Linked DNA regions of Homo sapiens: regions 2, 3, 4, 5 and 6 are each reported to be linked to region 1. The links are microRNA targets in miRTarBase. Many come from high-throughput screens and were not tested one by one. Region 1 holds a microRNA gene; each other region holds the end of a gene's coding sequence.
What was found. Region 1 holds the annotated microRNA hsa-miR-548as-5p (AAAAGUAAUUGCGGGUUUUGCC, at 2,161-2,182, shown strand). A microRNA usually pairs through its seed, bases 2 to 8, with sites in the 3' UTR of a target mRNA and lowers its output. Matches are read on the target gene's strand: a 7mer-m8 pairs with bases 2 to 8, a 7mer-A1 pairs with bases 2 to 7 and ends in A, and an 8mer does both.

Region 1 (5,202 bases):
ATTTTTGAAGTCATCAAACTGTATACTTATAATATTTGCTCTTTTCTTCATATTCTACCTCAATAAAAATGTGAACATATGCATGAACATACATACCCAGATACGTATGTGCCTGAGTGTGTGTGTGCGCGTGTGTGTGTGTACAGGCATATAAGTTTGTAAATTTAATCCAGTATCAAAACTCAATGAAAACCCATTTTTTTCTAACGTGGCTGTGACTAATTATTTAAGGATTGCAAACTTACTAAACAGTCCAAAATCTTTCAAACCAATTTAAATCAAAGCATAATATTATCGAAAGATTTAAATTTATGCATCACTTTTCCGTGATGGAATGCTAAGTAGATCCTATCCAATGCTTACTTCAGATCCACTTCATTTCCAAAATGCCACTGAAGCATAAGTTAATTAAATTACATAGATTCTAGGCAGTGATGGGAAAAGTAATATTTGATTAAGTGCATATGCCTGCAAAAATCCCTCCGTTGCCATACGTGCTGATACATCAGCTGCTTAACTGCTGGCATTTTTAATCTATCCAAAAGGAAGACATATTTAAGTAGGTTAGTTATTCCTTGGCTTGTGAAGTGCTATCATTTTTGTTGTTTGCTAATAGTCCTGTAAGGCAGAATTCATTCAAAGCCAGACAGGAAATGCAATGACATAAAACCTGGTATTTAGAGTGCATATGCTCAGAATTCACAGCGATACTGTGTCGTAGGTGGTGGTTTCTTGCAGGCATTGCATTTCTCTTGATTCATGATAATGTTTGAAGCTTTGAAAGTGAAATTGACTAAAATTAATTCTACTTGTGAAACTGCCCTCCGGAAAACTGTTCATGTCTATGTGTATCAATGTGCTAACATAGCAATAGCATTTAAAGGCTTGACAATAAAGGCAGTTACTAACAAATAAAACATTAGAAAGGGCTTTTTTAACAAGTAAATTTCAGGGGAATGGTTTCAAGTTTAGACAGAATTATATACAAGTTCCCAGATGTTCATATAAATATTAATATATCAGTTATTTTCTATTTGACTCAATTATGCACAAATCAGCACATAATAATTTAATCAAGCTCTTCATCTCTCTTTGACAATACATTGCATCATGGAGTAGAGAAAGAATGTGAAATTCAAGGTGGCTAGTCTACTGCTAAACTCTGATGAAATGACACAGAATAATGATTTAACCACCAAACTAAGAAAAATCCTTCATTTTCATGTACATTTTACCTATGTCCATTCACTTATCTAATGATCCTATACATATTTATCAAGTATTAGTATGTGCAGGGCTATGTCTTCGTTGCTAGAGATACATCTTGTGACTCACCAATTCTCTGTCCTCATGGAGTTTCTATTCTAACGGGGAAACAGAATACTGGCAGAAAACAAACCAGTAAATACATCATGTGTCAGATATTGATGAGACACGTGGAGAAGAATTAGGCAAGGTAATTTGCATAAAAATTGTGAGATGAGATGGAGTGCTGATGTTGTTATTTTAGTTGAGGGATATGGACAGGGTTACTCGAAAGGTGGTATTGGAGTAGATAACTGAAGGAAGTGAGAGATACCCACGTGGATACCTGAGGCAGGGCTGCTCTCAGAAACTCACCTAGAGTTTGCCATTAAGCTTGCCATTACTACTTTCAGAAGAACTCAGAATATTAATTTACTTTCTCCACATTCCCTACAGTATGGATGAAGAAATATCACCACGTTCTTTTGTTTGTCTAGACACACAAAATATCTACAGTAGTTGGAGGTACAGACAGAGCTGGGACTAAGGCTTGATTCACCTATTCATAAGCCAGGAAGGAACTCTTGGTTGAATGTAAAAAACAAAAAATATGGTCATATTGCAAACAGAAAAAAAAAAAGTCAGCTTCTAAAAGGATAAAATATAGGGCAAGTTTCTTGGCAGGATTTTAAATGATTCTGTGGAACTTCATTATGACATATTTGTCCCTAAACATTATATGTAAGTTTTTATTTTTAACATGTGCTTCTTCCTCTTAGAATGTCTGTTTACATACTCTTCTTGTGCATTTTAAAAAATTTATCTATAATGTGCAGTTAAACTTTTCAGCGCATTGTTTCCCGAAAACTCCAAGCTGAATTGTTCTCGGTTCTTTGTGAATTATTAGGTCAGTGCAAAAGTAATTGCGGGTTTTGCCGTTGCTTTTAATGGTAAAACCCACAATTATGTTTGTACCAGCCTGATCCTAAGCAATCTCATTATCGTCTAGATTCTGCCACTTTTCATTGTATTATTATATCTATTTTTTCACTAACAGAAATAATTTTTAGTGTCCCTAATGTTTAGTGTTGTGCATATTTTAAAATCTTAATGTTTTCCAAATAAATAAATGAACACGAGATTAACTTACAGGTAGAAAAATGTATAAAACCTCATCAAAAATGATGGCTCTCTAATCAGTATCCTTGCTATACATTGTAAAGGGACATTAAGTATCCACCCAGCCTTTAGAGGTGGAAGACTGGCTCTACCACTTAATGGTTGTATAATAGTAAACACTTTGGTAAGCCTCAGTATCCTGAGTTCTAAAATAAACATATAAATGGTGTTTGTCCCAGTGGTCTGTTTAGGGTCACAGTGACTAACGTATATAAAAGATATAAAAGTGTTTTGTAAATTTTAAAGTGTTTTTCACCTCTTCATTTTTATGACTAATTCTAATATTATCTTATATTTGAAAAGCATAGGGACATAGGAAGGAATTAACCGTGTAACAGATAATGAACTAAAAATTTTCTTAAAAATAATTGACTGAAAAGATATATTGGGTTGAACCTATACTAGTATAAATAGTAGTTCAATAAATCCAAGCTAATTATTGGAGGCAAGAAAACTACAGTGGAAATCTTTGTACTTATCATGAAAGAAGCCTTGTAAAATTTATACAGGAATAACTGTCAACTCCATCACATGCAGGGGGTACAGAATGAGGTAGAACAAAGACAGATACCTATGGAAACTGAGAAGGACTCAGATGGTCTCGTTACTATATGGAACCAAGTTTCTGCTTAGTGACAAATCAGAAATTTATTATGTTTTCTTGTCAGGAGATGTGTACTCAATTGCTGATTATTTCAGAATTAAACCTATGCTAATGGTTTACTATCAGATCCATGTTAATTAAAAATTTAAACTTGAAAATGATTCTGAGATGTCCTTGATATGTGAAGTGCTATTTTAATTTGTTTTGAAACATTCTCCATAATTACAAGCTATACAGAAAAAAAGATCTGATTTTTTTAGTCTTCAAGTCCACAAAAATAGGGACTAATAAAGAAAAGGAAGAACCAGAATTACTTTATATAATTCAGTCAACTTTTTGACACACTTGTAAAACTATTATATTTTAGAAATGTGCAATTAATAGGCATTTTCATGTTTTATACACATATTAAGATGGGTAGTTTTTGTTTTGATGCTATAGAAACATATTTGATCAATATTTTCTCATGGTAAAGCAAAGATTTTCTCAACACACATCGGCAGCACGTTCTTCACATTCATTTGGTCAGGAGATTTTTGTGAATAAATGGGATTTCACATTTATTCTTATATTCATAATAAAATATAAGAATTAGTGCACTTGGCCAACCGTGTAGATTATCCACTTCAGCATTTTGCCTCTGACAAGCAACAAGAAATATATTGTCGAATGTACTGTCTTCTACCTGAATATTACTCTAAAAATTAAGCAGTACATGCCCAAACTGTTGATTTTTTTCAGACTACTCCAAATTCAAACTGTGTCAATTCTGACTAGAAAACCAAACCTCATAAAATTATTATACTATGTCAAGTAATATTTCTTTTTATTTGCCCTCAGTTTTCTTCTCTGTTGGTTCAAAGGAGATTCTTGTTAACTGAATTCAGTTGAAATATATCCTTAGCCTTCATAATTGCAGAATCATTCTTTCTTCAGCTTCACAGTTTTTTTTATCTTTTCAGTCTAGAGTCTACATCATTTAAGTCTGTCCCCAAAAGGCAGACTCTGTCCCTTTGATGTTTTTTGCATGCTGTGATCTGGACCTCAAAACCTTTCATTTTATCATTCTTGTGCAACAATACATATAGAAGAAGCAGGTATAGACTCAGTATTTTGCAGAAGAAAAGCATTTTGTGTGTGTATATGTTTTAACAAATTATATACATTTCTAATGATGTCAATGTTGTGATTTTTAATTTAAAAAATTAAGACCATTTTGAATAGAGTAACACATTAATTTTCTTTTTTTCTTTTTTTTTAACAATGAGAACACTTGGACACAGGAAGGGGAACATCACACACAGTGCCTGTTGTGGGGTGGGAGAGGGGGGAGGGATAGCAATAGGAGATATACCTAATGTAAATGAGGAGTTAATGGGTGCAGCACACTAACATGGCACATGTATACATATGAAACAAACCTGCACATTGTGCACATGTACCCTAGAACTTAAAGTATAATAAAAATATATAAAAAAAGAGAAAATACAGAATCAAGAAATAAATAAATAAAAATAAAACAAAACAAAAAAAGTAACACATTAATTTTCTTAAGAAAGTAATTCCCTAAACCATAAAAATGTCCTGGTAAATATGTAATCAAAGAGATGATATTATAAGCAAAAAAGTAAAACTAGAACAATCAAATAAACACAATGCTAGGGTAATGTTCTTCTTCCTTAGGAAAGCCAGGTGAATAAAAATGAATATTCATGAATTTGTTGAATCTTGAAACAATTTTTAGCATCTCAGAAATAAATTTGCCTTTTTTATAAATGCAATGCCTAGTAATCTCCAACTGTTGTCCAGTCAGTTATTTGTATCCACTAGTGACTGTCTCAAAATTCTCCTTGACTTCTTATCAGGAAGATGGGGAATAATTTTTTTCCATCTGATAGGTGTGGAACAAAGCAGCCTCACCCTGAGGCTGACTTCAGTATGTCAAACAAATGGCTGTTCTCTCACAAATAAATGACAATAAGCCTGTTGGTTGCTTTCTGAATTCACACTGATAGGGCTCCCTTCCAGGGCCCTGAGTGTGCAGCTGTTCCTTCTTAACACAGACTCAACAGGTTCATGACATTATTTTTTAATGGAGTTTCTATAGAAATTATGTTTTAAAAATTCTCATCTGCATGAGATATGTTTGAATCTCATATATTGACATGTACACA
Region 2 (5,202 bases), not on the chromosome of region 1:
CCAGGTACTTGGAAGGCTGAGGTGGGAGCATCGTTTGACCTCAGGAGTTGGAGGCTGCAGTGAACCAATATTGCACCACCCACTGCACTCCAGCCTGGGCAACAAAGGAAGACCTGTCTCAAAAGAAACAAACAGGCCAGGCACGGTGGCTCACGCCTGTAATCTCAGCACTTTGGGAGGCCGAGGCAGGTGGATCACTCAAGGTCAGAAGTTCAAGACCAGCCTGGCCAACATAGTGAAAACCCATCTCTACTAAAAATACAAAAATTAGCTAGGCATGGAGGTGGACACCTGTAATCCCTGCTACTCGGGAGTCTGAGGCAGGAGAATCACTTGAACCCGGGAAGCAGAGGTTGCAGTGAGCCGAGATGACGCCACTACACTCCAGCCTGGGTGACAGAGTGAAATTCTGTCTCAAAAAAACAGAAACCAAAAACTACCTCCTAGACTTGTAGAAAATATTAAGTAATTTTATTTATTTATTTATTTATTTATTTTGAGACAGCGTCTCCCTCTGTCGCCTGGACTGGAATGCAGTGGCACAACCTTGGCTCACTGCAACCTCTGCCTCCCAAATTCAAGCGATTCTTGTGCCTCAGCCTCTCTAGTAGCTGGGATTACAGATGTGTACCATCACACCTGGCTAGTTTTTATATTTTTAGTAGAGACAGGGTTTCCCCATGTTGGTCAGGCTGGTCTTGAACTCCTGACCTCAAGTGATCCTCCTGCCTCAGCCTCCCAAATTGCTTGGATTACAGGTGCTCCAGGCCAAGATTAAGTAATTTTTTGTGAAGCACCAAGAGCCACAGCTGGATATCATATTACTTAATCTCTCCTGGAGTTATGGTGAGATTAAACAGTTATAAGGATGCCTGGCACAGAGTCCGAGCTAAATGAGTGATGGATGTGGTTACTGGTGGTAACATGCTTTAGATATGGAAGATATTATAGGACTTCCTGCATGCCAACTGCCCTTCAATTTGTGTGGGGGGGAAGGGTGGGCAGAAGGCAGAGGCTCTCACTCATTCTCTAACATTATTGCCCCCTCTCCCACAGATGAGTCCTGCCGGCGGTGACCATCTTCCAACATAGGGATATACCTCCCTCCTTCTTATAACTGAAGATCCTGGAGCCCGGAAGATTCAGGGCAGACAGACCCTGATAATGAGCCTGGCAGGGAAGGGCAACCAACATCTTGTAACTTGCTTTCCCCACCCTGTTTCTGGGGGCAGAGCCAATTGCCCAATTTCTACCCTAATCCAAAGTCCCTGGTGTGGGTGGGGTTAAACGTGCTGGTGCATCCTAGGTCATCCAAGAGTGAGCGCCAAGTCCTGAGAAGGGGCACAGAACTCCCTGGAGGGTGGAGATGGAGCACCTGCCCCCCATGGCAGGGTACACTCTCCCCACAGCCTTCCTCCCCACCATCCCGTGGGGACTCTCGGGATTTAAGCACTCGTCTCTCTGGGAGGCCCAGACCCCACTCCATTTATAGGCACATCTCCTTCATTTCCTAGGTCACTGCCCCTTTGTTTACAGCTCCTGCCTCCTCCCTTGACCACAGCCTGGTTTACAAATTCCATCAGCTCCCAGCCCCACCTGCCAAAGTCCCAGGTTTACAAGCCACGCTTACTTGCTGTGTCTGCGTGGAATTCTCTCCTCTGTCCCCTCCAGTCTCCTCATTGGAGTGACCTGAAGGTGTGGCTTCCTCCACTTTTTCTCAGTATTACTTTGCCTTAGTTTTCCCCAAGAGGGAAGGCTGGAACTCTTAACTCTGTACCCCTTGATAGTTATTTAATTCTGTTTCTCCTAGTGGTTCACAATTGAACTGAATTGAGATGGTGTCGGGTGGCTAAGGAGACACCTCACCTCTCCTTCCCCATTGTGCCGCCTTTATCAATTGCCTGTTTTGTTTTGTTTGTTTTTTAACTTTCCATAATAAAATGGAGTTCTCTTCAACTCGTCTGCTTCTCCTTCTTTGGGAAAAAAAAAGGGTATGTGAGGGGAGGCTCTGGTGGCTGGGGGAGAGGAAAATGATGGGGGATGAACCAGGAACTCGGCACTGACATGTCAAAAGGGGTCTGGGAAGCTGCACGTGGGTTTCACGCAGGACAAGCAGGTGACATGAGAAAGGGCAGTTGAAGTGTCCACTAGACTGGAAGTGCCATGAGGGCTGACTACATCAGCTGGATTCACTGCAATATCCTGTACCTGTCAACTAGTAGACACGGAATTATTTCTAGAATGAATGACAACAAATGAATGAATAGAAGAAAAGGGTTAAAATATTACAGAGGACACTTTGAGTTGAAGGGTTCTAGTATTCAGAAGCCTGCTGCCATGAAGGCAGCTAGGTAGTGTATGACACAACCCATGTGGCTAATCCAGGGATACTTACTTAAAGAGCTGGGGCTACGAATACTAAATCTGAAATTGCTGCAAAATGAAGTAAGTATGTACAAGAGTCAGTTTCCTGGAAAAGGTTCCCCTCTGATAGACAATGGATTTTATATCGTTAAAGGCCTAAAGGCCGGGCACGGTGGCTCACGCCTGTGATCCCAGCACTTTGGGAGGCCGAGGCAGGCGGATCATAAGGTCAGGAGATTGAGACCATCCTGGCTAACACGGTGAAACCCCGTCTCTACTAAAAATACAAAAAATTAGCGGGGCATAGTGGTGGGCACCTGTAGTCCCAGCTACTCGGGAGGCTGAGGCAGGAGAATGGCATGAACCCGGGAGGTGGAGCTTGCAGTGAGCTGAGATTGCGCCATTACACTCCAGCCTGGGCAGCAGAGTGAGACTCCATCTCAAAAAAAAAAAAAAAGGTTTAAAAACCATCTTGATAGTGCATGGCTTTGGTGCCCATGTAGTTGATATTTGGAATTTTCCCATTTCAAAGAATATCTTATACAAATGTGGAACATCAATATTTTACTCATCAGGAAAATTTGTTTGTTTGTTGTTAGCTCTCCAGGCTAACAAAGATATGGTTGAATAGTTATAGTCCTTCTACCACTACAAGTTGCTCCTCTCAGACTGGTCAGAGGAGGCCCCACACCTTTACTATAAAACAAAATATATGAGACAAATTGAACTTAAGCATACGCCAAAGGTTTTCAATTTACTAGCAAGAGAACAAGCCAGGTGTCAAAAGACTCAGCCAGTTCAGAGAAGGTCTGGGTAGGGAAGGAAACAGAATGATTATATTAGTAGCCTGTTAGGTAAAGGTCTTAAAAAGTTTCCAGTTGTGACCCAGGAAAACAGAGTTAGGAAGCTCCGAGGTGCCAGGGGTGCTCACAGTCCATCTCAGAAACAGAAAACAATGCATTCAAGAGGTCAGGCCAGGTGTGGTGGCTCATGCCTGTAATCCTAACACTTTGGGATGCCAAGGCGGGTGGACTGCCTCATCTGAGGAGTTTGAGACCAGCCTGGGCAACATGATGAAACCCCGTCTCTACTAAAATACAAAAAATTAGCTGGACGTGGTGGCACGCACCTGTAGTCCCGCCTACTCAGGAGGCTGAGGCAGGAGAATTGCTTGAACCCAGGAGGTGGAGGCTGCAGTGAGCCAAGATCACGCCACTGCATTCCAGCCTGGGCGACAGAGTGAGACTCCGAGACTCCCTTTCCAAAAAAAAAAAAAAAAAAGTCAGTGATGTAGATCCACTTGTGGCTATTAATAAGAACAATGTTTCATTTCCTAACAGTAGTGCCTGGTAACTGCAATTAATCACAAAAGTATGATGCAGGATCAAACAAATCAGACAGCAGAGCATCGAGTAACAAATTCAGCTTTTTGTTTTGTTTGTTTTTTTTTTTTGAGCATAGTCTTGGTCTGTTGCCTAGGTTGGAGTGCCTGACCTCGGCTCACTGCAACCTCTGGCTCCTGGGCTCAAGAGATTCTCCTGTCTCAGGCCCAGTGCGGTGGCTCACGCCTGTAATCCCAGCACTTTGGGAGGCCGAGACGGGCGGATCATGAGGTCAGGAGTTTGAGACCAGCCTGACCAACATGGTAAAACCCCATCTGTATTAAAAATACAAAAACTAGCTGGGCGTGATGGCATGTGCTTGTCACACTTGTAATTCCAGCTACTCAGGAGGCTGAGGCAGGAGAATCACTTGAACCTGGGAGGCGGAAGTTGCAGTGAGCCGAGATCGTGCCATTGCACTCCAGTCTGGGCAACAGAGCGAGACTCTGTCTCCAAAAAAAAAAAAAAAAATTCTCCTGTCTCAGTCTCCAGAGTAGCTGGGACTACAGGTGCACACCTCCACACCTGGCTAATTTTTTGTAGAGATGGTGGGGTCTCACCCTGTTGCCCAGGCTGGTCTCAAACCCCTGGTCTCAAGATATCCTCCTGCCTCAGCCTCCCAAAGTGCTGGGATTACAGCAAGAGCCACTGCACCTGGCCTTGCTTACTTTTAAATAAGCAGCCACCAGTGATTTTCTCAAGCTGTTAAGCAAAAATGCAGAACACAGTTTGCCTGTTCCTTAGTTTGGAGATTTTGTCTTTAACAACTTTCCCCAGTTCCCCAGTTTCTTCCTGCCTAGAGGTCTTCCCTTATACCTGACCTGTCTTCACTCCTGCTGCAGGCAAACCAGTCCTAGCAACGGTCACTTTTTTGTTTGTTTGAGACAGAGACTTCCTCTGTTGCTCAGGCTGGAGTGCCGTGGTGGGATCTCGGCTCACTGCAAACTCTGCTTCCCATGTTCAAATGATTCTCCTGCCTCAGCCTCCCGAGTGGCTGGGACTACAGGCGCACACCACCACGCCAGGCTAATTTTTATATTTTTAGTAGAGACAGGGTTTCGCCATCTTGGCCAGGCTGGTCTCGAACTCCTGACCTCAGATAATCCGCCCGCCTTGGCCTCCCAAAGTGCTGGGATTACAGGCATGAGCCACCGCGCCCGGCCAACAATGCTAATATGTTTTATGAGCATGGACCCGATCTTCCAATCTGAAATAGAATTTCATTCCTCCCTTACTTTGTATAGTTTTTGGCTCTATAAAATTTCCATACTTTCTTTATTATGTATCCTGTCCCTCCCCCACCGCAAAATGTAAATTTGGTAAGGAACTTTTGATTTGTCCTCTGCTATATCCCAGGGACGGAAAGCAATGAGCACACATTAGGCATCCATTAAATTAATTTCACTTGTTGAATGAATGCGTGAGCGAAGCACTCACAGACTGACCATCAGGGGGC
Region 3 (5,202 bases), not on the chromosome of region 1:
TAAGGGTAGAATAAAGTATTCTTGCAGTCTTTCTATTTTAGTGTTTCCCAAAGTATATTTAAGGCCAAGGTAGGTCTATACCACTCATGTTTATGTTTAGTCTTATTATGGTGGTGCTTATCTGGAAGACAGGGTAGTGATGCTGTCGTGTTGTGTACTTGTTCTTTCTCCCGCTGCTGCATATAATTTTTCAAGGGCTTTTTTATTTTTTTCATGACTCCTTTAGTGCTCAGCACATAATAGCAATCAAGCTGTTATTGGATATCTGAACAATGTTGAAGCAAAAGTAAACTTGGCATTGTTATTTTGTTATCTGTGAGTTGTTTGACCTGATATAAATTCTAGGTATCAGTTTAGGTCAGTCAGGAGCGCTTTTCTTTCCCTGTGCATTTCTCTGTGCTCATATGATACAGCCCTGATGTTAGCTTTTCAAAAAGGACTTTGTTATCTCTGTGTGTTTCCACTAGGTGATACTATCAACCAAAGCACCCTGCCCTCACAGCAGAACCGTTTCCCAGACTACCTTGAAGCCATTCCTGGGACAAATGTGGACCTTGGAACACTGGAAGGAGATGGAATGAACATAGAAGGAGAGGAGCTGATGCCAAGTCTGCAGGAAGCTTTGAGTTCTGACATCCTTAATGACATGGAGTCTGTTTTGGCTGCCACCAAGCTAGATAAAGAAAGCTTTCTTACATGGTTATAGAGCCCTCAGGCAGACTGAATTCTAAATCTGTGAAGGATCTAAGGAGACACATGCACCGGAAATTTCCATAAGCCAGTTGCAGTTTTCAGGCTAATACAGAAAAAGATGAACAAACGTCCAGCAAGATACTTTAATCCTCTATTTTGCTCTTCCTTGTCCATTGCTGCTGTTAATGTATTGCTGACCTCTTTCACAGTTGGCTCTAAAGAATCAAAAGAAAAAAACTTTTTATTTCTTTTGCTATTAAAACTACTGTTCATTTTGGGGGCTGGGGGAAGTGAGCCTGTTTGGATGATGGATGCCATTCCTTTTGCCCAGTTAAATGTTCACCAATCATTTTAACTAAATACTCAGACTTAGAAGTCAGATGCTTCATGTCACAGCATTTAGTTTGTTCAACAGTTGTTTCTTCAGCTTCCTTTGTCCAGTGGAAAAACATGATTTACTGGTCTGACAAGCCAAAAATGTTATATCTGATATTAAATACTTAATGCTGATTTGAAGAGATAGCTGAAACCAAGGCTGAAGACTGTTTTACTTTCAGTATTTTCTTTTCCTCCTAGTGCTATCATTAGTCACATAATGACCTTGATTTTATTTTAGGAGCTTATAAGGCATGAGACAATTTCCATATAAATATATTAATTATTGCCACATACTCTAATATAGATTTTGGTGGATAATTTTGTGGGTGTGCATTTTGTTCTGTTTTGTTGGGTTTTTTGTTTTTTTTGTTTTTGGCAGGGTCGGTGGGGGGGTTGGTTGGTTGGTTGGTTTTGTCGGAACCTAGGCAAATGACCATATTAGTGAATCTGTTAATAGTTGTAGCTTGGGATGGTTATTGTAGTTGTTTTGGTAAAATCTTCATTTCCTGGTTTTTTTTACCACCTTATTTAAATCTCGATTATCTGCTCTCTCTTTTATATACATACACACACCCAAACATAACATTTATAATAGTGTGGTAGTGGAATGTATCCTTTTTTAGGTTTCCCTGCTTTCCAGTTAATTTTTAAAATGGTAGCGCTTTGTATGCATTTAGAATACATGACTAGTAGTTTATATTTCACTGGTAGTTTAAATCTGGTTGGGGCAGTCTGCAGATGTTTGAAGTAGTTTAGTGTTCTAGAAAGAGCTATTACTGTGGATAGTGCCTAGGGGAGTGCTCCACGCCCTCTGGGCATACGGTAGATATTATCTGATGAATTGGAAAGGAGCAAACCAGAAATGGCTTTATTTTCTCCCTTGGACTAATTTTTAAGTCTCGATTGGAATTCAGTGAGTAGGTTCATAATGTGCATGACAGAAATAAGCTTTATAGTGGTTTACCTTCATTTAGCTTTGGAAGTTTTCTTTGCCTTAGTTTTGGAAGTAAATTCTAGTTTGTAGTTCTCATTTGTAATGAACACATTAACGACTAGATTAAAATATTGCCTTCAAGATTGTTCTTACTTACAAGACTTGCTCCTACTTCTATGCTGAAAATTGACCCTGGATAGAATACTATAAGGTTTTGAGTTAGCTGGAAAAGTGATCAGATTAATAAATGTATATTGGTAGTTGAATTTAGCAAAGAAATAGAGATAATCATGATTATACCTTTATTTTTACAGGAAGAGATGATGTAACTAGAGTATGTGTCTACAGGAGTAATAATGGTTTCCAAAGAGTATTTTTTAAAGGAACAAAACGAGCATGAATTAACTCTTCAATATAAGCTATGAAGTAATAGTTGGTTGTGAATTAAAGTGGCACCAGCTAGCACCTCTGTGTTTTAAGGGTCTTTCAATGTTTCTAGAATAAGCCCTTATTTTCAAGGGTTCATAACAGGCATAAAATCTCTTCTCCTGGCAAAAGCTGCTATGAAAAGCCTCAGCTTGGGAAGATAGATTTTTTTCCCCCCAATTACAAAATCTAAGTATTTTGGCCCTTCAATTTGGAGGAGGGCAAAAGTTGGAAGTAAGAAGTTTTATTTTAAGTACTTTCAGTGCTCAAAAAAATGCAATCACTGTGTTGTATATAATAGTTCATAGGTTGATCACTCATAATAATTGACTCTAAGGCTTTTATTAAGAAAACAGCAGAAAGATTAAATCTTGAATTAAGTCTGGGGGGAAATGGCCACTGCAGATGGAGTTTTAGAGTAGTAATGAAATTCTACCTAGAATGCAAAATTGGGTATATGAATTACATAGCATGTTGTTGGGATTTTTTTTAATGTGCAGAAGATCAAAGCTACTTGGAAGGAGTGCCTATAATTTGCCAGTAGCCACAGATTAAGATTATATCTTATATATCAGCAGATTAGCTTTAGCTTAGGGGGAGGGTGGGAAAGTTTGGGGGGGGGGTTGTGAAGATTTAGGGGGACCTTGATAGAGAACTTTATAAACTTCTTTCTCTTTAATAAAGACTTGTCTTACACCGTGCTGCCATTAAAGGCAGCTGTTCTAGAGTTTCAGTCACCTAAGTACACCCACAAAACAATATGAATATGGAGATCTTCCTTTACCCCTCAACTTTAATTTGCCCAGTTATACCTCAGTGTTGTAGCAGTACTGTGATACCTGGCACAGTGCTTTGATCTTACGATGCCCTCTGTACTGACCTGAAGGAGACCTAAGAGTCCTTTCCCTTTTTGAGTTTGAATCATAGCCTTGATGTGGTCTCTTGTTTTATGTCCTTGTTCCTAATGTAAAAGTGCTTAACTGCTTCTTGGTTGTATTGGGTAGCATTGGGATAAGATTTTAACTGGGTATTCTTGAATTGCTTTTACAATAAACCAATTTTATAATCTTTAAATTTATCAACTTTTTACATTTGTGTTATTTTCAGTCAGGGCTTCTTAGATCTACTTATGGTTGATGGAGCACATTGATTTGGAGTTTCAGATCTTCCAAAGCACTATTTGTTGTAATAACTTTTCTAAATGTAGTGCCTTTAAAGGAAAAATGAACACAGGGAAGTGACTTTGCTACAAATAATGTTGCTGTGTTAAGTATTCATATTAAATACATGCCTTCTATATGGAACATGGCAGAAAGACTGAAAAATAACAGTAATTAATTGTGTAATTCAGAATTCATACCAATCAGTGTTGAAACTCAAACATTGCAAAAGTGGGTGGCAATATTCAGTGCTTAACACTTTTCTAGCGTTGGTACATCTGAGAAATGAGTGCTCAGGTGGATTTTATCCTCGCAAGCATGTTGTTATAAGAATTGTGGGTGTGCCTATCATAACAATTGTTTTCTGTATCTTGAAAAAGTATTCTCCACATTTTAAATGTTTTATATTAGAGAATTCTTTAATGCACACTTGTCAAATATATATATATAGTACCAATGTTACCTTTTTATTTTTTGTTTTAGATGTAAGAGCATGCTCATATGTTAGGTACTTACATAAATTGTTACATTATTTTTTCTTATGTAATACCTTTTTGTTTGTTTATGTGGTTCAAATATATTCTTTCCTTAAACTCTTCTTTGTTGTTTTTAACAATTGATATTTGAAACTTTTTTTTTTTTTGGCTTCTTACTGGTCTTCCAATAGAACAAGAACTGGCAATAAAAGGTGATTACAGTAGTAACTGGGAAGACAAGTTAAACTTAAGTTTCGTTGTGCTTTAAGTTAGGCTTGACATTTGGAACTTTTGAAGTATGGATATATAATTCTTTTAACTTTGTGTTCTTACTCTTCACATACACCATCCTCATCCGTGGTAGTGTCTAAGCAGAACTGCGTCTGCTTGATTCTTAAATGACTTCACTACATGTGACGGCACAGAGGACACTGAGAACATAAGAACATGGCACTGTCTTTCAGAATGGCCTTTGGTTTTACTTCTTTAATATATTCTCTCAGGCCAGGCGTGGTGGCTCACGCCTGTAATCCCAGCACTTTGGGAAGCCAAGGCAGGCGGATTACCTGAGGTTGGGAGTTCAAGACCAGCCTGACCAACATGGAGAAACCCCGTCTCTACTAAAAATACAAAATTAGCTGGGCGTGGTGTCGCATGCCTGTAATCCCAGCTACTCGGGAGGCTGAGAATATATATATATTCTGTTCTATTTTGGAGGTCATGAGAGAATATTATATATTAGTAAAAAGCATTACTTACTGGCTTATAAATAAAAACATTCACAAATTGAAGTGGTAGGTCCTGACCTTTGAATAAGAAGTAGATTTGAGTATCTTTAAAGATGGCTGGACGTGGTGGCTCACGCCTGTAATTTCAGCATTGTGGGCGGAGGCTGAGGCGGACAGATCACCCGAGGTCAGGAGTTCGACAGCAGCCTAGTCAACATGGTGAAACCCCATCTGTACTAAAAATACAAAAATTAGCTGGGCATGGTGGTGCATGCTTGCAATCCCAGCTACTTGAGAGGCTGAGGTGGGAGGATCACTTGAACCCGTAAGGCAGAGGCTGCGGTAAGCCAAGACCACGCCACTACACTCCAGCCTGCGTGACAGAGCGAGACTCCATCTCAGAAAAA
Region 4 (5,202 bases), not on the chromosome of region 1:
TTTCGGCTAAAAATCCTCCAGGCTGGATTAGAGAGAAATAAGTTCGAAAAACGCCATTGTTCCCTCTTCAGATTCATTCCCTCCATATTTGGAAATAAGTACCTTTGAAGATTTTTGTACTTTTATATATTTCTGAACTCTCATAGTTTAGGCCCATGATATGGCTGAAGCATGGATGTACAATTTTTAGTTTTCCCAAGAAAAATCATACTTGTTAGGATATTTACTCGAGTAGTTTTTTAGTATTACAATTCTAGAAGAGAAGTCATTATAAGCCCCTTCTGGCCTTAGAGACTATATAATACCAAAAATACCTAAAAACCTTTTCTTTAAGAGAGTGAAATCGCTTGATGTGCCCTCCCACTCCGGTTAGATGCTTAACAGACGACAGCAGACAATGCACCTCAACCAGGGCTAAGTGTGCACACTTGGCCAGCAGCCGCCAACAGAACGGGCAGCAGCAGCAGTTAGCACTGACGCAACTATCGCTGCTATTGCCACTACCATCTCCCCACTAACAGGGCTTGCAGAATATGTAATACCCAGGGGATTATATATATGTGGTTTTTAGGCACCGCCTCATCACCCACAATAAGGGAAGCTTCTTTCTACTCTTTAGCTAGTTGCTGCTCCTACTTGTTAGGAGTTTGATGTATCAGACCCTTTTGAGAAATGTCTATGTCACAACTACGTTCAGGATAAAACAATTATGAAACTGAAGGGCTCAGATTTGGGGATCAAGATTAGCAGGTTGTATTCATAGTACTTCAACTTAAATTAGCAAAAGTATATCTGCTTTTTGCAAGTTTTTGCCACCATTGAAAGCAAACAGTATAGCTTTCATTTGGATTCAAAATAATAAATTGTTTTACTTGGGTAAGATTTCACTAGTAAGAATTCTAGGAAATTATTCCAGTTAGATTACGTAATAGAGATAAGTGACCCCTAGAATCTTTAGGTTTGGGGTAAAGATTGTTAAAAGGTAGACTTTAAGTTGGTCTACCATTTCTACAGTGTTCTTAACTGAAGAGTTAGTCTTTTAATACCCTGTAGTTTGCTATTTAAAGCTTGGCTTCTCATTTTTGAGAAGGGCTACTTGACTTCCACAGATACAAGGAACAGAAGCAAATGCCAAAGTGAAAGCCTCAATTTTTTTTTTTTTTTTTTTTTTTTTTTTGCCTTGTATTCATCAAGAACTAAAGAGGCAGCGATACCTAGGCTTTAAAACACCTACTAGAATGTTTTAAGGGAGCTAGTTGAACAACTGGGACTATTTTTTTGCCAAATAGATTAGCTTGCAAAGGGCACTTAAAAATTTGGACAGAGGAACTTGGCTGGATTTCTTTACCAGAGGCCACAAATCTGTTTATTCATCTATCATCAATCTTTGTGGCAATTCCTAAAATTTCTGGAGGGTCCACTTTCACTTTGTGTGACAGGCTCATCTAACTCCAAATATTCTCCTTTAGTGTATGATAAGCTTCATATTTTACCTCTTAATTATCTTCTACATTGAACTCTAGAGACAGAGCAAACTTATCCTAACACATTTCACATAGAATTCAAGTTATTTTTTGGGTGATAAAGCCGAGGCCTGTTATCATTCATGCACTATTATTGCAAGCTGTATTGACTAGTAGTTTAGTCATATAACTATTTTTTTCTTTTATTTTTATAAATTTTTTTTTTGTAGAGACAGGGTCTCACCATGTTGCTCAGGCTGGTCTCGAACTCCTGGCCTCAAGTGATCCTCCTGCCTTGGCCTTCCAAAGTGCTGGGATTATAGGCGTGAGCCACCATGCCTGGCCCACCAATATATCTATTCTTATTTCAATAGGAATATCTAGTTACTTTGTTTCTACAAATGAGTTTGTACCTCGTAGGTACAATGAGTTGTACCTTGGCTTCTTACTGGGGAGGACGTGGTAAAAAAAAATGAGACGTTTTAGACTCTTTGAGGGTTGGAAATTTTACCCAGAACATGAAAGAACATACTAGGGACAGGAATTCAAAAGATGATGATAGAGAATAATACTTTATTTGCCAAAACAAACTTTGGGCCTTATAATTAATTAATACTGTATAATCCTTATAATGGGGAAAGCAATAGTATCAAACTTCAAGCTTCTAAAGGGAATTTGGTATTACTCCAGTTAAAAAAAAAAAAATCCATGTTTTTTGTACCACAGCAGGGTCAGAGCAGCAGCCAAACTCTGAAATGGCTTTCAGAGTTCATGATGAATGCTAACCTACTTACCAAACAGGCACTTCAGCTACTCACTGTCAGCAGGCCACATCCTGTTCAGTGTGATGACTAAATGTAGAGTGAGGAAAAGGTGGAGAGCAGACAGTTCTATATTCATGACTACAGCCTTTTCCTTCTACATGCTTGACCTCCAAACCTCCCATGAAAAAAAAGTCCAAGGCTATCTTTTCTTTTTCATTCAGTTGACCAAAATCACAAGGGGGCATCCCTTAAGACAACAGAACCAACTTCCCCTTCATCTAGTAGGATTAATGTCCTTGCTTAAGCCACAAACAAGATGTTAACTGCCTTATATTTCATATGCAAGTGAAATATGAGTCATCCACTGATTCACGTAGCAACGCAAAACATCTTCTCTTCATCCTCTTGGTACTGTGTTGGTCGGTCATTTAATTCCAGAGGAATTGCTGTACCTTCCACAGCCAACTCTCCACCTCACTTGTGACACACAGCATGCACCCGGTGCTTCAAGTCTTTTGTCTTTCCTTGCTTCCAGACATCCTGAGACTTTAGAGAAAGAAAGTAATGGCCAACCTGATGGAAAATTCACTAAACTCCCTGTACAATTTTTTCTTTGTCTCAAACTCCTCATCTGCTCTTCATACTGTAAGTTCCAGAAATTGTCCATAGTAAGAATCTGCCCCATCCCAGCCAGGATAAAAATTTAGGTGATATTGCAATTATATTCTTCATGAAGTCACAGTAAAACGGTGGTTTTTAAGCTTTAGTTTACATCAGTATCGCCTGAAGGGCTTATGAAAGCAGGTTTCAGCCCTCGCCCCCAGAGTTTCTGATTCAGTAGGTCTGGGATGGGGCTGGGAACTTGCATTTCTAATACATTCCCAGGTGATGCAGATGCTTCTGTTCTCAGGACCACACTGAGAAACCTGCCTTAGACTGTTCAAGAATGCCATTGCTTGCTATCCTCCCTGGCCATCTTCACAGTAAGACAGTCTAGACTTTCATAAGAAGAAAGCCCTTATCCATGCCTTAGAAGGCACTTGTCCTTGACCTATATAAATGACAGAACATGGAAAACAGAGACTTAACTATAAAGAAGCAGAATTCATAGAAATCTTAGCACGTGTTTCTCGATCAGGAAACAAGTTAATGGAAAAAAAAGAAACTCACTCCTCTAACCAAGAGGAATTCTAGGTACAGACTAAGCTAGCTTCTTTTACACAGTAAGAAATATTTCGGGAGCAAATGTTAAACAGTACTTCATTTTTTAACTGTGCTAGGGTGTAAGAGAAACCAGCCCAATTACAGGCTTAGTTATACAACATCAAGAACTACAGCTCACACATTTAGTTAGAACACTTGGTACTACTCAGGATAGGAGTTCATCCTAGAGGAACAGGCACAAACCATGGTTAAGCTGCTTGGTTTAATTTTTTAGCACTTGAAAAAAAATGTACAGTAGTTTGAACACTCAGTCTTTGCAAACCTCCATTGAGGTCAAAGATATCATTCATACGTACAAAATTAGTTTATAAATTTTTTTGGCAATTTCATCTTAGTAACCCGTTTTGTCCTATTGCCATTGTCCCAACCATTGAAAAAGTTTACAATAATTTACATAGAAATATTTTCAAAGTGCTTAAGAATAGTGATTGTTCTCTGGGATATTTACAGATGGCCTATACAATGTATGTACAGGTGGTATACACTATAGCACAAGTTTCACTGCTGGAATATGGCTTTCTAGGGAAAGTGCATATTTGGCCAGAGGTGGCAATACTGTCTAGAAATTCAAGGGTTACAGATACTCGGTAACCACATCCAAAGCTGAAGTAGAATGTGGACAAGAATATTTACAAAAGTAATATAAAAACGGTCAAGTACACAAGCTTGATCCACGCAAAGGTATCTTGATGTTCTTCCAGCCGAGAGGAAGAAAAAGAGACTTCAGCTGCTGGCTCGGTTACCATTCCGACGGGGGTATTATTTGTTTAGACCTCAAAGGTCAACATTTGTCACAGAAGTCAAGCTAGATCATCATCTGTGCTTACAACTGATATCTGTGGAAAAGAAGAAGTATAGAATGAGCTTGGTGATCACTCACTGATGGCAACTCTAGTCTTTAAAATGGACCTTGCTTTTGAGTTGGTCATTCAAACACTCAGAGTGCTTAGAAGAAAAGTCAGTCAGATACAAAAGAATACTGAGTTGTATCATTCATGCATTTAACTTGAATTCAACTATACCTGCTTGGTAGTGAGATAAGATAGTGTGACTAATTCTGTCTTTTCTACTTAATGATCATAAGTCTTGGGGAAAAATGTGAAAAGCCATGTGTGTGTCAAGAATTGACCACTGTTCCATGTTTCACCGGAGTTTGAGAGGGGAGTGATCAATACTTGTTTTGTTCAGCCTGTTTCCTACGTGAAGGCCAAATACTCCACTTGGGTTTCATCTGAAGAACAAGTGAGTGACTATTGCTGGAAGAAAAGCTAGCTATACTAAGGGCGGTGGGATACCTTTTTAAAGCAAAGCATATAATAATTTTGGCTAAGTGAATCTTACTCAATACACTGACTTTAAGCCAACTCCCCTATATATGATATGCTAATTTACTTTCAAATATCCAGTAGGCAATGGATTTAATAGTTCAGTAATGAGCTACTTGGTTCATGCTAGTATTTACATGTCATTTCTATAACCAAAAATATCTTAATATAGTGGTGACTTTAAGTTGACCCACTTGTCAGTTGGTGAGGGTTAGATGCTGATCAACTGAGTGACTTATGTTCTAACAGGCTATACTGTCTGTCTAATAGCCAGGTAGCAGATGAAGTGTTTGGTAACTCCATCATCCTAATGGCTCTCTCTCTCTCACCCAGGTCTCCTTTCTGAAAAGTCTCACTTCAAGCCATGGTGTATAAAGACACAAAGCTGACTTACTGCTGGGTACGTGTGTCCAACAGAAGCACTGT
Region 5 (5,202 bases), not on the chromosome of region 1:
TTACAAAAGGTAAAGGGAAACAGGAGAAAGTAATGTTGATAGTACATTTTATTTAGCCCAATATATAAAAAATATTATTTCAACATGTAATCAATAGAAAAATGATGTGATATTTTACATTCTTTTTAAAAAATATTAAGTCTTTGAAACCAGTGTGTTCTTACACTTACAGCCCATCTGAATTTGGCCCAACCACACTCCAGTGCTCCAAAGCCATAGATGGCCAGGGGCATCCACACTGGACAGCACAGGGCTAGAGGCACTGGGTGGGCCCTTCTCTATTTCAAGCTCAGTGGTCTGGATGTGGGCAGAAAGAGGAGTCTGGATCTGGGTTAAAGCTACAAGAACTCCCTCCCCAGGGTTAACACCAATATTTTCTGTAACACTCCCCTGCCGGTATTGAAGAGAACAGAAAGAAGGGCAAAGGAAAGAAAATAAACAATTTATTTTTCTTTTATTGTTATTTTTAGAGACAGAGTTTGGCTCTGTTGCCCAGGCTGGAGTGCAGTGGCACAGTCATGGCTCATTGCAACCTTGACCCCTGAGCTCAAGCAATCCTTCTGCCTCAGCCTCCTGAGTAGCTGGGACTTACAGGCGTGAGCCACCATGCCTGGCTAATTTTTATTTTTTATTTTTGTAGCGATGGAGGTTCACTGTGTTGCCCAGACTGGTCTCAAACTCCTGGGTTCAATCAATCCTCCCACCTCAGCCTCCTAAAGTGCTGGGATTACAGGCTTGAGCCACCGTGACTGGCCCTTATTTTTCTTTATATCCACAGCATATTAGTAATAATACACCATTGTACACAACCTTGCCTCTCCTAATAGAAAGCACGTTCTTTCTTTATAGAAATAAAAGAAAAAAACCCAAATCCCAAGGCTCTGACTGAGGTCCAGCAAGGATTAAGGTCATCAGGTACCAAACAGGATCCAAGGGTAAATAAAGGGAGAGTGTGGGCTTACCTGGAGACTCCCTAAGCAGAAAATGAGAGCTTGGGGCTACAGTGAGGGGGCCACTCCACTGTTCAGGTCTGTGGGCTCATCCTTCATTCAGCGCTGAGCACGTGAATTTGGGCATAGAAGATGGTGGTTAAAGCTTGAATAAAAAGGCCCAAGAACCAATAGAAACTGACGGAAACTGATAGCATACTGACAAAACACCTTATCCTCTGCCTCTTGCTGGTGTCAATGTAAGAAAAGATCTGAGATTTTAAGAACAACAGGCAGGGGGCAACATAGTGAGACCCCATCTCTACAAAGAATAAAAAATTAGCTGGGTGGAGTGGTACGTGCCTGTAGTCCCAGGCACTTGGGAGGCTGGGGTGGGAGGACTGCTTGAGCCTGGGAGGTTGAAGCTGCAGTGAGCTGTGACTGCACCACTGCACTCGAGCCTGGGTAACACAGTGAACCCCTATCTCAAGCAAACGAAACAAAACAACAAACAAACCAAAAAACAAAGAGGACTCTGAAAGGTGTTTCAAACAACCAAACGAAAACAAATACAGGCTTGCTAGAGAACTATTTGAAAAAGGATCTAAAACTTCTCAGCCAAAGCTTTTGGGGCCAGTTCTGCTGGAAAGAGGACTGGGTTTAAACTGCATGGCTCTTTGCAGTCATCAGAACCTCCATTTGCTTAAATGGCACTTGGAAAGACAGGTATAAAATGACACTTGGACAGATGCCACTTTCTGCAAGTGGAAAAGAACTGGTCTCCATTGTATAGAGTTTTACAGGAGCAAGAGAATAAGGACAATTCTAAACCCAGATTTTCTATTTGACCCTCAGTCTCTAGAAAGTTTGACATCCTAGATGAAGAACAAAAGTAAGTTGAACACGGACACAGAGAGAGGAACAACATACACCGGGCCTGTCGGGGGGTGGGGAGGGAGGGAGAATATTAGGAAAAATAGCCAATGCATGCTGGGCTTAATATCTAGGTGACTGGTGGATAGGTGCAGCAAACCACCACGGCACACATTTACCTACGTAACAAACCCGCACATGTACCCCAGAATTAAAAATAAAAAAAATTTAAATTAAAAAAGTAGAGACTCTTCAAAGTGAGAAGGTATGTCAGGCAGCTACTATTATTTTTCCTCCAAATTAATAAGTGTAAGGTACCTGTTTAATCAGCTGGAGGTTAGAAAAAAAATAATATAAATATTTTTCATGGAAACAAACAAGACAAAACAACAACAACAAAAGTAAGTTGAAAGCCATATGTGTTAAGGTCACTCTTAGCATTTTTACCTTACATGACAAGCAGAGACCAGGAAAAGACAAGGACATGAATTTAAGGTACTCAAGTTCCAAATACACGAATCCATTGCTAGTTGTTTCTTTTTCTCTCTTTTCTCAACAAGTTGGGGAACACATGCAGAGGCAACAACAGCCACCGACTGAGTTGACTATATTCTCCATGGGGCTGAGTATGGACAAGGCGTATTTCCCGGACGCCATGGGCAGGGGGTCTCCATCAATGACGTGGATATTCAACACTACAGGGCCTGGCTCCCTGCTTGCGGAGGACTCATGGGTCACCCTGAATGGCCCAAACTCTCTGATACCTGGCAGAGTGGTAAGGTATTTGAAACATCTATTAGGAACAGAAATATTTATAGTTAGTCATTATTTTCTTAAACCTTCTTGGTGGGTTCAGAAACAAGTGACCATTTTGTGTAAATTCATTTATTTTGGAGCAATGAGAACACATGGACATAGGGAGGGGAACATCACACACCAGGGCCTGTCAGGGGATGGAGGGCTAGGGGAGGGATAACATTAGGGGAAATACCTAATGTAGGTGACAGGTTGATGGGTGCAGCAAACCACCATGGCACGTGCATACCTATGTAACAAACCTGCACATTCTGCACGTGTACCCCAGAACTTAAAGTATAATAATAAAAAAAAGAAAAAAGAAGTTCATTTATTTTGACTCCTACAAAGGCAAGGAATAGGGTTTTTGTTGTTGTTGTTGTTTTTGAGACTGTCTCGCTCTGTTGCCCAGGCTGGAGTGCAGTGGCGTAATTTTGGCTCACTGCAACCTCCGCCTCCCAGGTTCAAGCAATTCTCCTACCTCAGCCTCCTAAGTAGCTGGGACTACAGGCACACAACACCACATCAGGCTAATTTTTTTGTAGTTTTAGTAGAGACAGGGTTTCACCATGTTGGCCAGGTTTGTCTTGAACTCCCGACCTCAGGTGATCTGCTTACTTCGGCCTCCCAAAGTGCTGGGATTATAGGCGTGAGCCACTGCGCCTGACCAGGAATAGGGTTTTAATACAATTTTTCATCTGGCCTGAAAAATATACTTCAGTGTTCAATGATTTGAAATCTCTGAGATATCAGGGAATGAAAGGGATTAAAAGCTTTAAGAAATATAAATATAAATGTGTATGTGTGTGTGTATACATATACTATTTTTTTTTTTTTTGCCCAGGGAAGACATCTGTCAGTGCTCATAAACCCTGTTTCCTCTGGGGATAAGTTAGTACCAGCTTAACCTGAGGGTGGGCAAAAAAAGGACATGCAGAATTCAACGCAACACACATCCTGACAAGTTTATAAGGACCACGAGAAGTTTAGAGGCAGGAAATAAATAGTAACACCAACCATAAAAAGGCTGTCACTCACTCTAGAGTTTAAAATGCTCGTACGCAGGTGGCGGTGGGCCTTAGGCAAGCCAGCATGACAGCAAAGAAAGGACGGACCCAGAGGAGACTCCAAGGATGTAAAAACATGAATGAAACAAAACATACAACCAAGCCTCACCACAAAAATGACAACCGTGTGAGGTAATGCATTTGTGAGCTAGATTTAACCATTCCCAAAGCATTGTGTTGTGCGTGATAAATGCGCACTGTTACGTCTGTCAATTTAAAAATAAAAATGAGAAAGGCCGGGTGCAGTGGCTCATGCCTGTAATCTCAATACTTTGAGGCCAAGGTGGGAGGATTGCTTGAGCCCAGGAGTTTGAGACCAGCCTGGCCAACACAGTGAGATCCCCATCTCTAAAATAATAAAAATAGAAAAAATGAGACGGGTCTGGTGGTGCACATCAGCTACTGTGGATGCTGAGGCAGGAGGATGGCTTGATCCTAGGAGGTCAAGGCTGTAGCGAGCTGTGATCGCACCACTGTGCTTCAGCCTAGGCGATAGAGTGAGGCCTTGTCTCTAAAAAATAATAATAAATAAAAATTTAAAATTTTAAAAATGAAAAAAAAAAAAGACAACCAAACCCCTTAGGCCCACTACCTTGCACTGAAAGCAGTGTTTGGGAGAGAGCATGTGGCATCCAGAGGTGTGAAGCTCAGTCGAGGCGAGCAGAGCCAGCCCATGAAATCCTGTACTTCCTGTTTCTGCAGAACCAGCTACAGCACGGTTGAGAGAGGTTCTCCAAATGGGAAGATGTAACAGACCGCTCCTCTGCAGTGACCTGCAGACCCCCAGAAAGGGTGCTCCTTGAAGCACCAGGGCCTCGGCCTCATCAGCCACCACCACATTCACTTGGGTGAGGGTGATGGCACTGCCCACCTGGCCTCACTGTCCTTGCATTCCTCTTTCTGACACATCCAACAGGGAGCTATGAGACCAGGGGCTCGTACACAGGTGTACAAGCTGTTCTCCCGCAGCAGCCTGTGAGTCTTTCTCTTGACCGTCTTGTTCAGGAGCTCTTCCGCTCTGAGAAAACCAGCAAGGCCTCTCCAAGCGCACCGAGCAGGAGGCTGCAAACAACAGCAGAAGGTCAGCTCTCCACTCCCCCGGGACCCCTGAGCTGCCTGGCGCCCACATACGCAGGGCAAGGGGTGCTTCCCCTCATCCTGCAACTGAGACTCATCACCAGCCCGAACTGCCATGCTTCCAGGTCAAGCCCAGGAATCGCTCCTATCCCTCAGGGCAGACCTCAGGTACACATGGGAGGTGAGAAGGCAGGGAGGCGGGCTCGATACCTTCCCTTGGGGAAGAAGGTGAAGCGTCCCACACATCCTGACCAGGTGAGGATGATGCACTGGGTTAGTGCTCTCTGGCAGAAACACAGACTTCTGGCAGGAGAGATCCCATAGAGGCCTCTGGTGCTGTTGGCAAATTGGGCTGATGGATAGGAAATCACACAGGTATCCACACTCTTAAAATTAAGGTGACAATCTCAGTTTTCATTTCATTTAAACTACAGAACATTTAAAGGTGAAAATACAAGTGG
Region 6 (5,202 bases), not on the chromosome of region 1:
AGGGAATGGTAGAACCAGAATTACTAAGTACGGCATCAGTGTGAATGTGGGGGAAATTTGTGTATAACTTGCTTTGTTCTGCTGAGCTGATATTTCACCTGATTAGCAGATGGATGACTGTGGAAAGATGAAGTACTAGTCAAGGATGTGGTTTTACATAGCAGTTGCTATTTCCGGGACTGAATGATTTCTTCCTCTTGGTCACATGCAAAATCTCACCCAGATGTAATGTGATAAACAAACAGTTTACCCAGTGTAACCTTTAAGCAAAAATGTATGGTGATCTGCATGTGAAACTGTCTTTCTCTACACAGGTATTAGCAAAACAAGAATACATGAACAGCTGCTATCAACTTGTATACTTTTTTTCCACTTGTTTATATTTTAACAGCCACTGAGAGATCAGTGATGCTGTGGTGACAGCAGTCAGCATTATTTCTTAGAGAATACAAATGTATTAAGTTAGAGTAATTTCAGGTGTGTTAAACAGGAGATGCTTCTGAAGGCCACAAGTTTGGAGCTTACTTTAACCTGACCTACATGAACATAAGATTTGTAGGATGTGGATAAACTTTAAGAACTGGATAGTGAAGGCGTAACTTTTGTTTTGTAACCAGTTACGCCTCTTCTGTAAACTCTATAAGAGTGCTCAAAGGTGAATCAAACTTGTATATCATTCCTTGTCAAATAGGCTGTTCCCACTGGATAAGAAAATTTGCTGTATGTTTTCCTGAAAAATTTTATAGTGTTCTACAAAGCCATCACCTTCTGCAGAAAAAAAATGTTACTTATGCTCCACCTCCCCAGCCCTCACTAAAAACTTTGGTAGCCCTATGGCGGTACCCTAATTAAGGTCAGTGCAGAAATCTCAACCATTACAGAAGTCTCTTACTATTTTGGCTCTCAAAATACTCTAACTAGTAGCTCTGTTTGCTGAATCTAGAAGTAGGTAGAGCTGTAAATAGTTTAATAGAATGATTGGGACATACTCCCAATTAAGAATTTGCAAATTGTTTAAAGCCTTATGGAGGAAAGGACACTTTCAGAGATGTTTATTTTTTAATAGTCATCTTGATATGTTATCACTTTAAAGCTTGATAATCGAAACTCTTGAGAGCTATTAAGGTTGACTGATAGACTTAAAAAGTGATTGCTTTATAATTCTCGTGGGCCATAGGAAACACCTTCAGAAGGGAACAAGCAACTATGGAGGTTCTTTAATTCATGCCAGGGACACAGGCAGTCCAATCTTGATCGGGTAACTACGGTGCACTTTTTTCTCATTTAAAATAATCTAATCTGTATCCAGTTAGGAACCAGAAGACTTTCAGATAGTTTCATGTTTTCCTTAGAGTGGTAACTTTCTTTACTACTCCTTAACAGCTTTTAAGAAAAAGCCTATGGGCTCTAATTTGGACTTCCTTTTGGAGTAGAATGTCAAGGCTCTGACTTAGAAGAGGTCCCTCTAAAATATTGCTGCAGGCTCAGAGAAGACTTAGTGCATGCATCTGAAAGGAGAATTAAGCAATTTTAAAAGTTAAGTGCTAGTTAAACATAACATTTGTTTCAGGCAGCATGGATATTAACTTCAGAACGCTGACAAGCCAGCCGATGAGGATGAAAGTTTCAATAAGGAATCATACTGTTCCCCAGTCCATGACAGATTTTTGTAGCTGGTAAGCTCACACTGATGGCACTCGCAACTACGGACAGAAGTCTCTTTTGCTTGTGATTTGCACAGTTGGTTTTGTTTGCCTCAGTCCAACAATGGGAAATATATTCCAAGGGAACTGTGAAATGGGTCCTTTGGCTCTGTGCCCATTTCTTCAAAAGCCAAAGACTGAATTCTGAACAGAGATGGTTACTGACTAAAAGGGGGTAACCACTGAGGAAACTAGGGAGAACAATTCAAAATACGAAATCTGAAGGTTTTTAACCTCATATAAATTAGAATCAAGATCATTGTTTACCCTCATTGGAGATGTTTGTTAGAGAAAAATTCAGGTAGCGCCAGGTTATTCACAAAGGAAAATTACCCAGGAACCTGCAAGCATTTAATTTAATCAGTATAGTTTAGTTCAGTAGCTCCCACAATTAGCATAATCAAGTGCCACCTAGTTCACCTTCAAGGATTGTGTCTTGGGGAGTATTTGAAAAATACAAGAAAAGGAAAAACTTTTATAGCTTTTTTATTATACATATTTATAAAAAATTAACACTTTTGCCTGCAAAATAGTTTTTACCCAAATCACATTTGAAAGTACTAAAACTAAGGTCAGGTAGCATGAGTAAAACTGGGGCCCTTAACAGGAGCTGGAGCCGCCTCTGCCTGGGGGAATTCTCAGAGAAGGGGAGGTTCTCTGATTTTACCTGGAGCAAGAATGGAGACAGAAGTCAGTAGGCAGGATTTTATTCCTGCTTCAGCCACATGTTTCTGTGTCAGTGAAAATGAAAACTGCCCATTTGATGCCTGCTTAATCACAAAAAAGAGCCATGCACATCCCACTTTGCTCAGGGGAGGACGTTTCCCTAGGCAAGCTGGAAAAATAGTGAAAACTGATTTTTTTTTTTTTGGGGCATATGTTTTTCAGCCAAAACATTTTCCTCATGATAAAATGCAACTTTATATGAAAAGTGAAAAATTCTAAAAAATCACAGGAATGGCCAGGCACATTGGCTCATGCCTGTAATCCCAGCACTTTGGGAGGCCGAGGTGGGTGGATCAGTGGTCAGGAGTTCGAGACCAGCCTGGCCAACATGGTGAAACCCTGTCTCTACTAAAAATACAAAAAAACTAGCTGGGTATGGTGGCGGGCACCTGTAATTCCAGCTACTCAGGAGGCAGAGGTTGCAGTGAGCCAAGATCACGCCACTGCACTTCAGCCTGGTGACGAGCAAAACTCCATCTCAAAAAAAAAAAAAAAAAATCACAGGAACTAACTTTGACCAAATGATTGACAGAAACCAGTGAACATTTTCATAGTGATCAAAGCACCCCAAAGCTGGTCCTTCTAGACTGATACCAGTTGATCTGTTGTTTCGTTTTGGAGATGGGCAGCCTCACTGCTGGCCTCTCAGTGGTTGCTTTTAGGATACAGCTGTCTGCCCTCCGAACTGGTGGCTGGAGTATCCTCCAGCGAACAGAAGGCTGTGGAATTTGTATCATGCTCTGAAAATAGACCTACCCGTAGCTTATGGACATAAAGACTCTATGCAGAAACCTCCTCAACTTTAATTTGTAGTCAGCTATGGCAATGGAACACATTTTTCATAGGGAACTTTGGATGGATTCTCTGGTGCTACAGAAAAAAACAGTAAATGGTCCTTCAAGTGTATCAGTGTAGAACTGAGAGAGAAGAGGTAAAACTGAAAAAGAATAATGAATTTGTTTTAAGATTGAAGACCTTCCTGAAATAATTCAGTTACTTTGGTACTGCCTAGCCCTGTAAGCATTTTGCTTGAAATTTAACCTTTTAAGCACCATATGCTAACCATCACCATGTATCTGGGGGCAAAAAAGAAGCCTTAACTACCATTCCCTCACTCTGTCCCCGTCATGACAACAGGAGCTAAGTCTTGAACTGGGGGTTACACAGCACTCTTAAGTAGGCGTGATAAGTTTTGCAAAATGTTCAGTATCTCCTCAGTGTCTTGTCCTTAGGTAGAGACAGGTCCAGAGCTACAAATGCACCCATGTGGAAGAGATTTGATTCAGCAGAACAGCAATTATGTAGTGCCCTGGGGCGGGAAGTGCTAATAATGTTTCTCAGCTCTTGAAGAAACCCCTGACAGAATTTTAGTTCCACTACAGGTATCAAAAAGATTCCCAGCTCTAAGTCTTGGATATTAATAAGGCTCCACTGAGAGGGAGAAATCCCAGAATCAAGAGAGCGCTCCCTTCCCAGCCCTGCCTCCAAAATGAAGATTGAAGGAAGTTTTTATTCTCTCAATACAAAATTGTTCAGGCACAGTCCTGGTGGTGGTCTGTTTGTAACTTTAGTGTATCTGGGACTGTAAGTAACACCTGTCTACGCTCTTCCCATGACCTATAACTCCCAGAGATCACCTCTTATGGCCGCCTCTATCTTAAAGTTGAGACCCGGGACTTGGAAACCAAAGCCTTGCTGTAGTAAACAAATCAGCAGTCCTTTTAAATGCTGGAGGCACACACAGGTCTGTTTTCCCATGAAGCAGGAGGAAAGAGGAGAAACGAGATTCTAGAAGATGAGCCCAGCATCTACCAAAAAGAGGATACAATGGAAAATCTTACAGAAACAAATGTCTGGGATCCCACTGATGCACAGCCGCCAGACCAGAAGAGGAGGGGGAGAGTGAGTGCTGAAAGCAGAAACGAGGCTCTGCTGAGCAGGCACAGAACATGTGTTTACACGCTGTTGTGGGCCCAGGAGGGAAGAGCGGGCACCTCTGGATACAGTCCACAATGTCACCATGGCCAGTCGCCCCAAGGGTTGAGTTGGGGCACTCCATTGTCCAAGTGCCGACCTACCTGCCAGCCTTCCCTTTCCTCCTCCTCCCAACAAGTACATGGGCCCTTCTGTCCCCAGTGGCCTGCTGCAGTTTACTTCCCATGGGCAGAACTCCGGTGCGTGAGTGCTGATTAAAGCGAAGTTTCATTGGTGTGTGGCCTGGAGTTCTCCTCCTCTAGCAGAGCTATTCTTTGCTTGAGCATCCTCACTTGGGTCTCATGTCTCTCCACCATGGCCATCATCTGCGACTCTAACTTCTTCAGTTTGTTTTGATGCTTTTTCTTTGCTTTCTCATAGGCAGCCACCAGGTTGCTAGGTGGGAATGAAGGGAAATTGGTATTAAGATTCATCCTAAGTAGCATCGTGACACCATCCTGTCCACTGGATAACCAGATCTAGTGAGCACTGCTCTGAAGAAAGATCACTCATCCTCTTCGGTAAGAATCTGAAATCTAGTGGTCAGAGGAGGGACAGCACCAGGATGTCAACACTCAACGGCCAGTCACCTACTGGCTTAACCCTGATGAATCCAGCCGGATTGCTAGAGGCTGGTCACTCTCACATATTAGAAGGGGTTCTAAGAGTCAAACCAGCAATCCAAATTGGCCCAGTCCAAAACGGATAAATACAAATAGTGGGTCTATTTGTTGCTCCATGGTTGCTTGCAACATAGTCAAGTGTATCTTACAGGAGAGTACTCCTAAGGCACTGCAAT

Region 2: miRTarBase lists PPP1R18 as a target of hsa-miR-548as-5p. Seed matches in the 3' UTR shown: 7mer-m8 at 1,724-1,730.
Region 3: miRTarBase lists YAP1 as a target of hsa-miR-548as-5p. Seed matches in the 3' UTR shown: 7mer-A1 at 833-839 and 7mer-m8 at 1,241-1,247.
Region 4: miRTarBase lists VLDLR as a target of hsa-miR-548as-5p. Seed matches in the 3' UTR shown: 7mer-m8 at 4,086-4,092 and 7mer-m8 at 2,786-2,792.
Region 5: miRTarBase lists SLC35D4 as a target of hsa-miR-548as-5p. Seed matches in the 3' UTR shown: 7mer-A1 at 2,891-2,897.
Region 6: miRTarBase lists MCC as a target of hsa-miR-548as-5p. The part of its 3' UTR that is shown has no 7-base or 8-base seed match.

Annotation. Positions count from the first base shown.
Region 1 is chr13:92,488,003-92,493,204 of GRCh38, forward strand. MIR548AS (microRNA 548as) reads left to right here and starts at 2,161; the gene lies at 2,161-2,218. The region is part of intron 7 of GPC5 (glypican 5); the gene reads left to right. The region is part of intron 1 of GPC5-IT1 (GPC5 intronic transcript 1); the gene reads left to right.
Region 2 is chr6:30,673,143-30,678,344 of GRCh38, reverse strand. It overlaps PPP1R18 (protein phosphatase 1 regulatory subunit 18), which reads left to right. Exons shown (of 3, transcript NM_133471.4): 3 at 1,057-1,956. The coding sequence ends at 1,076. Among named protein-coding and RNA genes, the nearest start is that of DHX16, 2.7 kb to the right of the region's middle. RefSeq lists a silencer at 3,247-3,386 and an enhancer at 5,028-5,202.
Region 3 is chr11:102,229,235-102,234,436 of GRCh38, forward strand. It overlaps YAP1 (Yes1 associated transcriptional regulator), which reads left to right. Exons shown (of 9, transcript NM_001130145.3): 9 at 468-4,190. The coding sequence ends at 706. Among named protein-coding and RNA genes, the nearest start is that of BIRC3, 86 kb to the right of the region's middle.
Region 4 is chr9:2,652,918-2,658,119 of GRCh38, reverse strand. VLDLR (very low density lipoprotein receptor) reads right to left here. Exons shown (of 19, transcript NM_003383.5): 18 at 5,171-5,202; 19 at 1-4,287. The coding sequence ends at 4,252. LOC105375957 (a long non-coding RNA gene) reads left to right here. Exons shown (of 3, transcript XR_929436.3): 3 at 5,110-5,202. Among named protein-coding and RNA genes, the nearest start is that of VLDLR-AS1, 33 kb to the right of the region's middle.
Region 5 is chr18:23,293,342-23,298,543 of GRCh38, forward strand. It overlaps SLC35D4 (solute carrier family 35 member D4), which reads right to left. Exons shown (of 15, transcript NM_032933.6): 15 at 2,672-4,726. The coding sequence ends at 4,666. Among named protein-coding and RNA genes, the nearest start is that of SLC35D4, 140 kb to the right of the region's middle.
Region 6 is chr5:113,022,684-113,027,885 of GRCh38, forward strand. It overlaps MCC (MCC regulator of Wnt signaling pathway), which reads right to left. Exons shown (of 19, transcript NM_001085377.2): 19 at 1-4,799. The coding sequence ends at 4,619. Among named protein-coding and RNA genes, the nearest start is that of DCP2, 48 kb to the left of the region's middle.